Linked DNA regions of Homo sapiens: region 2 is linked to region 1. Evidence: fine-mapped expression QTL. A gene starts in region 1. The other region holds a variant in brackets. All regions are shown on one strand. Distances are from middle to middle.

Region 1 (4,524 bases):
GCTTTACCCCCCGGGATAATGGGAGGCGTGGAGCCACGGTTTGCTGCGGTCTTTGCTCTCTGGGCAGTGAGGCCTTCTGTTGTTTACCTTAGGCTGCCTCTGAAGCTCCCAGATCCCTGCCTAGACATGATCTCACTCTCTCAAATCATCCCTGCGAGGCAGACAGGAGTCTGGGTCCAACTTCCCCCACTTCACAGGTGGGAAAACTGAGGGATTCACACATGTGTGTGCCGCAAGACACACACACACACACACACACACACACACACACACACACACACAGAGCAAATATGTTGACAAGTTGCTCTGCAGTCCTGGGGTCCTGTGCCTGCAGTTATTTGGAAGGTGAGAGGTCCATGATAGGGCCTGGCCCAGCGGCGTTCAGCAAGTGCCTCAAAATTCATGGGCCTTCTAGTGATATCCCACAGCCTAACACAGGGCCCTGCCTCCAGGGAGCCTGTGGTCAGTATCAGCAGGTGAGAGGAGCCTAAAGAGATGCATCCTGCGTTGCTGAAGTTCCTGAGTCCAGTTCTAAGGCAGCTCTACAGGCACATTTCGCCAGGCATGGTGGCTCATGCCTGCAACCACAGCACTTTGGAAGGCCAAGGTGGGAGGATCACTGAGGCCAGGAGTTCAAGACCAGCCTGGGCAATACAGCAAGACCCTCGTTTCTACAAAGAATTAAAAATTAAAAATTTAGCCAGGCGTGGTGGTGCACACCTGCAGTCCCAGCTACTCAGGAGTCTGAGGCAGGAGGATGACTCGAATCCAAGAGATCAAGTCTGCAGTAGGAGCTGTGATCACGCCACTGCACCTCCAATCTGAGCAACACAGTGAAACCCTGACTCTAGGGGATAACAAAAGTCACATTTCATGAGGGCAGGCCTTGCGTGTGGTAGCAAGAGCTATGGTGGAGAGGGACCACCCCTGAGGGTTGGTGGGCTGCCTGGGGACGGTGCCCAGTGCTGGACAATCCACACAGCTCCTCTCCAATTGTTGTGGCTTCCCAACACCCCTGTAAAAGAAGAATTGCTATGATCCTGCTCTACAAATAAGAAAATTGAGGCCCACAGCTCACCCAGGAGCACAGAGCAAGCCAGTCAGCAGTGGCTGGCCATCTGGCTGCAGGTCCTGAGCTTTGTCCACACCACCAAGCCACAGTCTCCCTAGCAGGGAGGCGCACAAAACTATCAGAGGCAGAGGAAAGGGGTGGCCTCTGCCAGGTGAGGAGCCAGACGGCCTGCTTCGCAGATCCCTTCCAGCTGGCTTTGCCTTCCAGTGCTGAGGTGGGGTGAAGGAGGAAAGGCCGAGCTGGGAGAGGAGCAGGCGCTCGCCACAACCACCCCCACCCTGCTCTCCACGCGCCAGGTCCTGCACGCTGGGTGGGAGGGTGACGACAAGGATGGAGGAGCAGGGCCCCACCCCCGCCCTCCCAGGGCGCACCATCTGCAGCAGAGAGGGCCTTGAGCTGCGTGGGAAATGCGGTAGGCAGAGGGACACTGATGAGGGTGGGCCGGCTGACGGCAGCCTTCTCTCAGCCCCGGACCCCTCCCGCCATCCCCAGCCCTGCCCCCTCCCTCCTTCCAGCGCCTGTCACTCTTCCTGCCCAAACCAAGCATTTAGCACTTAGCCTCGAACCCTCAGCTGACTCCTCATCTAGGACTCCGTCCATCTCTCCAACTATTGCAGAATCTCCTTCAAGGCAGGGGTTTATGTCCCCCACCCCACGGGCCATGTGACATTTATAACTCTTTGGTGGAATGAGAAGAAAGGTATTTGGGATATGATCAACTCCGGCAATGCCATTGTGTGTTTACGGCAACAGCGGGACAGTGGTTCCAGGGGGCGGCCCCGGGCCTCCGTGACGTCACCGGATTGTCGCGTCACCGTCGCCTACCCCGGCGGCGCAACGCGCCCTGCAGGAAAGATGACGTCACCGTCGGAGCTCCTGCAGACCAGTGCGCGCTCGGGGAGTTGGCGAGCGGGTGGCGGCTGGGAGACGTCCCGAGCGCACGGGACTGACAGGCGGCAGAAGCCGGGCGGGGTCCGCTGGGCTCCGGACCCGTGCCCCCCCAGTTCCAGGGCGGCCCCGGGCGGCCCCGCCCCCTCGGTGAATGCCGCGGGCCGGCCAATCCGGGCAGGCCGCGGCGCCGCGCAGCCTATCAGCGGCCAGAGCTCGCGTGCGCTTCCGCGTTCGCGTGCGCTTCCGCGTTCTCGTGAGCTCCCGGCCCGCTGCCGCAGGGACTGGGAGCGGGCTCCGCAGCGCACTCTAGCCCGCGGCTCGGCTCAGTCGGTCTGCGAGGATCCGGCCCGCCGCCCCCCGGGGGACCCGATGGCCTCGGAGGGCCTGGCGGGGGCGCTGGCTTCCGTGCTGGCTGGCCAGGGGTCCAGCGTGCACAGCTGCGACTCGGCGCCGGCCGGGGAGCCGCCGGCGCCCGTGCGGCTGCGGAAGAACGTGTGCTACGTGGTGCTGGCCGTGTTCCTCAGCGAGCAGGTGAGCGGCCGCCCCCGGGCCCGCCGGGCCTCGGGAGCGCGCAGCCAGCCCAGGTGGGGACAGAAGACCCAACGGCCACAGCCAGCGCTGCCGCGTGCGTGGCGCTTCCCAGTTTTGCAAAGCACTCCCACTCCCACTCGCATCTGTGTCCTGCGTTCGTCCCGATATGCAGAAGAGGAAACTGAGGCCCGGGGCCTGTTTGTCTCATCCGACTAGGCCTCATTCCTTCCCTTCCCCAGAGTCTAGCGGAGTGCCCAGGGCCCCTCAGATAGCAGTGGCTCAATCCCGGCTTACCTTCAGGCCTTTGGTGCTGATGCCTGTAGTGGGCGATGTAATGACAACTAGACGGGGCCAGGGCCATAGGGCGGGGTTGTACAGAGCGGAGGTGGGGGTCGTGTTTCAAGCCAGACCCCAGTGTGAGGACCCATCACAGTTTGTAAACCACGCCGTTGGAGGCGAGAGATACACAGTGGCAGGTACAGACGCAAATCAATCCAAGACAGACAGACACATGGTGACCCTCACTCTGGGGCCTCATCTCCAGCCCCTGAAGCGGCTTCCAGGAATCTCAGCCCTTCCTGAAATGGAAGTCTTCCTAAATCCAGAGAGAGACGAATTGCAGAGAGGAGAGGGCTGCAGCCCCCAGCGACACGAGGGCAGGTCTCCTGGAGCGCTAGCTGGGTTGAGAGTGTCCACCCAGAGGGGAGTCTTGGGCGACTGTGTTTGAGATGCCCCCTGGTCCCGGGGCGAGGGAAGGCTGTGGCAGGAAGTGAGGATCCTCTCTCCTCTCAGGATGAGGTGCTACTGATCCAGGAGGCCAAGAGGGAGTGCCGGGGGTCGTGGTACCTGCCTGCGGGGAGAATGGAGCCAGGGGAGACCATCGTGGAGGCGCTGCAGCGGGAGGTGAAGGAGGAGGCGGGGCTGCACTGTGAGCCCGAGACACTGCTGTCCGTGGAGGAGCGGGGCCCCTCCTGGGTCCGCTTCGTGTTCCTCGCTCGCCCCACAGGTATGGCCCACCTGGAGGCAGTGTGAACAGGGCCAGTTGACACCTTTCCCCCAGCTCCTCGGTGAGGTGAGCCCCTCTACAGCCAGTCCTGTTATGGCTGGCACAGCCTGGCATGGGCAGATTCCAGCCTTTGGGCTGGGGGCCTCTCTCCTGGGTCAGGGATGTCTGTTGACTCTGCCAGAGCTGCACTTCTCTCCACACAGACCCTCCCTGCCCCATCCCCCACATCTCCCCCAGGTGGAATTCTCAAGACTTCCAAGGAGGCCGATGCGGAGTCCCTGCAGGCTGCCTGGTACCCACGGACCTCCCTGCCCACTCCGCTGCGAGCCCATGACATCCTGCACCTGGTTGAACTAGCCGCCCAGTATCGCCAGCAAGCCAGGCACCCTCTCATTCTGCCCCAAGAGCTACCCTGTGATCTGGTCTGCCAGCGGCTCGTGGCTACCTTTACCAGCGCCCAGACAGTGTGGGTGTTAGTGGGCACAGTGGGGATGCCTCACTTGCCTGTCACTGCCTGTGGCCTCGACCCTATGGAGCAGAGGGGTGGCATGAAGATGGCCGTCCTGCGGCTGCTGCAGGAGTGTCTGACCCTGCACCACTTGGTGGTGGAGATCAAGGGGTTGCTTGGACTGCAGCACCTGGGCCGAGATCACAGTGATGGCATCTGTTTGAATGTGCTGGTGACCGTGGCTTTTCGGAGCCCAGGGATCCAGGATGAACCCCCAAAAGTTCGGGGTGAGAACTTCTCTTGGTGGAAGGTGATGGAGGAAGACCTGCAAAGCCAGCTCCTCCAGCGGCTTCAGGGATCCTCTGTTGTCCCAGTGAACAGATAGAGAGGTGGGGGAGGTGACAGGGAGCTAGGCAGCCGTGCTCCCTCCAGTGCGGACTTGTCTCCCTCTGAGGGAGGCAAGAGGCTGGCGATCAGGGATCTTGTTGCATTGGGAGCAGGGGCGGCTCTCCTGGTCCCCAGGAGAGATGCTTTGAGGAGCATTCCTCTAGATTGCACAAGGGACAGTGCCTTTAA
Region 2 (4,000 bases), 220 kb before region 1:
TTTTCATTTCTAAAAATTCCAATTTTTTTCATGCTTTCTAATTCTTTGTTAAAATTCTTAATGTTGTATTTCATCTCTTTGAAGAATTTAGGTAAAAGTCATTTTTATTTTTATTTGCAACAGGGTCTCGCTCTGTTGAAAGAGGGAGTGCAGTAATGCGATCATGGCTCACTGCAACCTTGAACTCCTCGGGCTTTAGAAATTAAAGAAAATAAAATAGAAAACAAAAAAAAATAGAAATTAAAAATTTTAATTTCTTTTTTGTAGAGACGAGATCTCACTATGTTGAGCAGGCTGGTTGCAGACTCCTGGCCTCAAGCTATCCTCCTACCTTGGCTAAAAGTTACTTTTAAATGTGTCTGATCAATTATCTGAATCCTCTGTAGGTCAGAACTTTTTATTTTTTATTTTTATTTTTTTGAGACAGAGTCTCGCTCTGTAGCTTAGGCTGGACTGCATTGGCACAATCTTGGCTCACTGCAACCTCCACCTCCTGGGTTCAAGCAATTCTCCTCCCTCAGCCTCCTTAGTAGCTGGGATTACAGGAGTCCACCACCACACCAGGCTAATTTTTTCTATTTTTGGTAGAGACGGGGTTTCACCATGTTGGCCAGGCTGGTCTCGAACTCCTGACTTCAGGGGATCCACCCGCCTCAGCCTCCCAAAGTGCTGGGATTACAGGCGTGAGCCACCTCGTGCCCAGCTTAAATTTCCAGTTTTCAACAAAGAATTATGATGCTTGCCAAGAAATAGAAAAGTAGGACACGTATGCATGGGGAAAAAAAGTCAACAGAGACTGTCCTTGAGGAAGCCCAGACGTGGTCCTATAGACAGTCTTTATATCAACTATTTTTATTTATTTATTTATTTATTTATTTATTTATTTATTTATTTATTTTGAGACAGAGTCTCACTCTGTTGCCCAGGCTGGAGTGCAGTGGCATGATCTCGGCTCACTGCAACCTCCGCCTCCCAGGTTCAAGCAGTTCTCCTGCTTCAGCCTCCTGAGTAGCTGGGATTACAGGTGCCCGCCACTACGCCCAGCTAATGTGTGTATTTTTAGTAGAGATGGGGTTTCTCCATGTTGGTCAGGCTGGTCTCGAACCCCTGACCTCGTGATCCACCCGCCTCGGCCTCCCAAAGTACTGGGATTATAGGCGTGAGCCACCACGCCCGGCTATATCAACTATTTTAAATATTGTTCAAAGAACTAAAGGAAACCATGTCTTAAGACCTTAACGAAAGTATGAGAATGTGTCTCACCAAATAAAGACTATCAATAAAGGCACAGAAATTACAAGAAAGAACCAAATAGAAATTCAGGAGTGAGAAACTATGGTAACTGCAATGAAAAATTTACTAGAGGTGCTTAACAGCAGATTTGAGCAAGCAGAAGAAATAATTAGGAAACCAGAAACGATGTCAGTTGAGATTATATCCAGTATAAGAAAAAGAAATAAGAAAGAAAAATGAAGACAGCCTCTGAAACCTGGGAGATACCAACAAACACACCATCATATAAATATTTGCTGTCTCAAAAGGAGAAGAACAAGAGGAAGGGGCAAAAAGAATATCTGAGTAAATAATTAACACAAAAATTTCCCAAATTTGAGGAAAAACATTAACGGACACATCCCCAAAGCCTAAGGGACACCAAGCAGGATAAACTCAAAGCTGACCTGCAACATCAGCTATCCCCTGGGTCTCCAGCCTATTGGTTCATCCTGCAGATTTTGAACTTGCCAGCCTCCATAACTGTGTAAGCCTATTTGTTAAAATAAATCTATACACATGCTCACACCCTATCAGTCCAGTTTCTCTGGGGAATGCTAATACAGAATTAGCACCAAGAAAGTGGGAGAGAATAGAACTATACAGGAACAAAGTTTCTATATACTATTGCTACAGTCTGAATGTGTGTCCCTGCCAAATCTCATGTTGACATGTAATTCCCAATACTGGAGGTGGGGCATGGTGGGAGGTGTTTCGATTATAGGAGCAGATCCCTCAGGAATGGCTTGGGCCATCCCCTGGTGATAAGTGAGCTCTTGCTTTGAGTTTACACAAAGATTTGGTCACTTAAAATGTGTACCGCCTCTTCTTCTCTCTCACTTTCTCTCTCTCTCATTTACTCCTGCTTTCACCATGTGAAGTGCCTGCTTCTGCTTCACCTTCCACCATGACTGTAAGCTTCCTGAGGCCTCCCTAGCAGCTGAGTGGATGCCAGCATTATGCTTCGTGTAAAGCCTGCAGAACCATGAGCCAATTAAACCTCTTTTCTTTATAAATTATCCAGTCTCAGGTATCTTGTTACAGCAATGCAAGAATGGCCTGACACAACTATTAAAATTAATTTGGTATTAATCTGAACAAGACTGTTAAAAGTTAATATGCAGAAAAATCATCTGATAAAATCCAACACACTTTCATTATAAAAATACTCAGCAAATTAGGAGCAGAAACTTTCTT[A/TA]ACATGATAAAGGAAATTTATGAAAAACTCAGAGCTAACATCATATACAATGGTGAAAAACTGAAACCTTTGCCTCTACTATCAGGAAAAAGACAAAGATGCCTGATTTTAGCACTGCTATTCAATACCATAATAGAAATCCTAGCCATAACAATTAAGGAAGAAAAGGAAATAAACTAAGCAAATTAAGAAAGAAAAGGAAATAAAAAGAATTCAAACTGAAAAGAAAGAAGACTCCATTCCCATAAGCAAATGACATTATTCTGTATCTAGAAAATCCCAAAGAATTAAAAAAAAAAAAAAAAAAACGACTAGAGCTCATAACCACATTCAGAAAAGTTACAGGGTACATGATCAACACATAAAAACAGTTGTGTTTCTATATGCCAGCAATGAACAACCCAAAAATGAAATTAAAACTATTCCATTTACAATAGCATCCAAAAGAATAAAATAGCTAGGAATAAACTTCAACCAAACAGGTAAAGACTTATACATGGAAACTACAAAACACTGCTGAAAGAAATTTAAAAAGATCTAAATAAATAGAAAGACATCCTGTGTCCATATGCTGGAAGACAGTATTGTTAAGATGACAATACTCTTCAAAGTAATCTAGATATTCAATACAATCCCTATGAAAGTTTCAATGGCCTTTTTTTGCAGAAACAAAAAAACCTTCTCTCAAATTCATATACAATTCCAAGGGGGCACTGAATAGCAAAAACAATACTGAAAAAGAAAAATAAAGTTGGAAGACTCACACTCTCCAATTTCAAAACTTATTACAAAGCAACAATAATCAAAACAGTGTGTTACTGGCATAAAATGAGATGCACAGACCAATGGAATAGAATTAGCAGTCCAGAAATAAACCCAAACATCCATGACAATTGATTTTCAAGTAGGGTGCCAAGATTTCTCAATGGGGAATTCTCTCAACGAATGGTGCTATGACAAGTAGATATCCAGATGCGAAAGAATAAAACTGGACCCTTACCTCACTTTGTATAACTCAAATCAGTGACTTATATGTAAGAGTTAAAAAGTATAACATTGTTAGAAAAAAAAAACAGGGGACAAGCTTTTATGACCTTGGATTTGGCAATGAATTCTTAGATTGAGCACCAAAACCATAAGGAACAAAAGATACAATAGATAAATTGCATGTTATCAAAATTTAAAATTTTCGTGCAGCAGAGACCATTATCAAGCAAGTGAAAATCTAAAGAATGGGGGGAGATATTTGTAAATCATACATCAGATAAGAGTATAGTTTCCAGAATATTTTAAAAACTCCTACGACTCAACAACAAAACGACAAATAGCCCAATTTAAATGGGCAAAGGATTTGAATGACACAAACGAGCAACAAGCACATGAAGGATGTTCAACATCACTGGTCATTAAGAAACGCAAGTCAAAACCACAATGAGATACTTCACAACAGTGATGATTCAAGCCGGGCATGGTGATTCATGCCTGTAATCCCAGCACTTTGGGAGGCCAAGGTAGGCGGATCACCTGAGGT

The links. PIP is the estimated chance that this variant, and not a neighbour inherited with it, causes the effect. A credible set is the group of variants that fine-mapping cannot tell apart.
Region 2: its variant is the best candidate, but not a certain one, in a credible set for the expression of NUDT18 in pancreas (GTEx, PIP 0.71).

The regions. Positions count from the first base shown.
Region 1 is chr8:22,107,109-22,111,632 of GRCh38, reverse strand. NUDT18 (nudix hydrolase 18) reads left to right here and starts at 2,214. Exons shown (of 3, transcript NM_024815.4): 1 at 2,214-2,494; 2 at 3,287-3,500; 3 at 3,738-4,524. The coding sequence starts at 2,333. The coding sequence ends at 4,333. RefSeq lists a silencer at 1,861-2,640, enhancers at 3,100-3,873, 4,270-4,414 and a cis regulatory region at 4,342.
Region 2 is chr8:22,327,596-22,331,595 of GRCh38, reverse strand. All of the region lies in intron 20 of PIWIL2 (piwi like RNA-mediated gene silencing 2), which reads right to left. Among named protein-coding and RNA genes, the nearest start is that of SLC39A14, 38 kb to the left of the region's middle. The variant A/TA (reference allele first, on the strand shown) is at 2,470.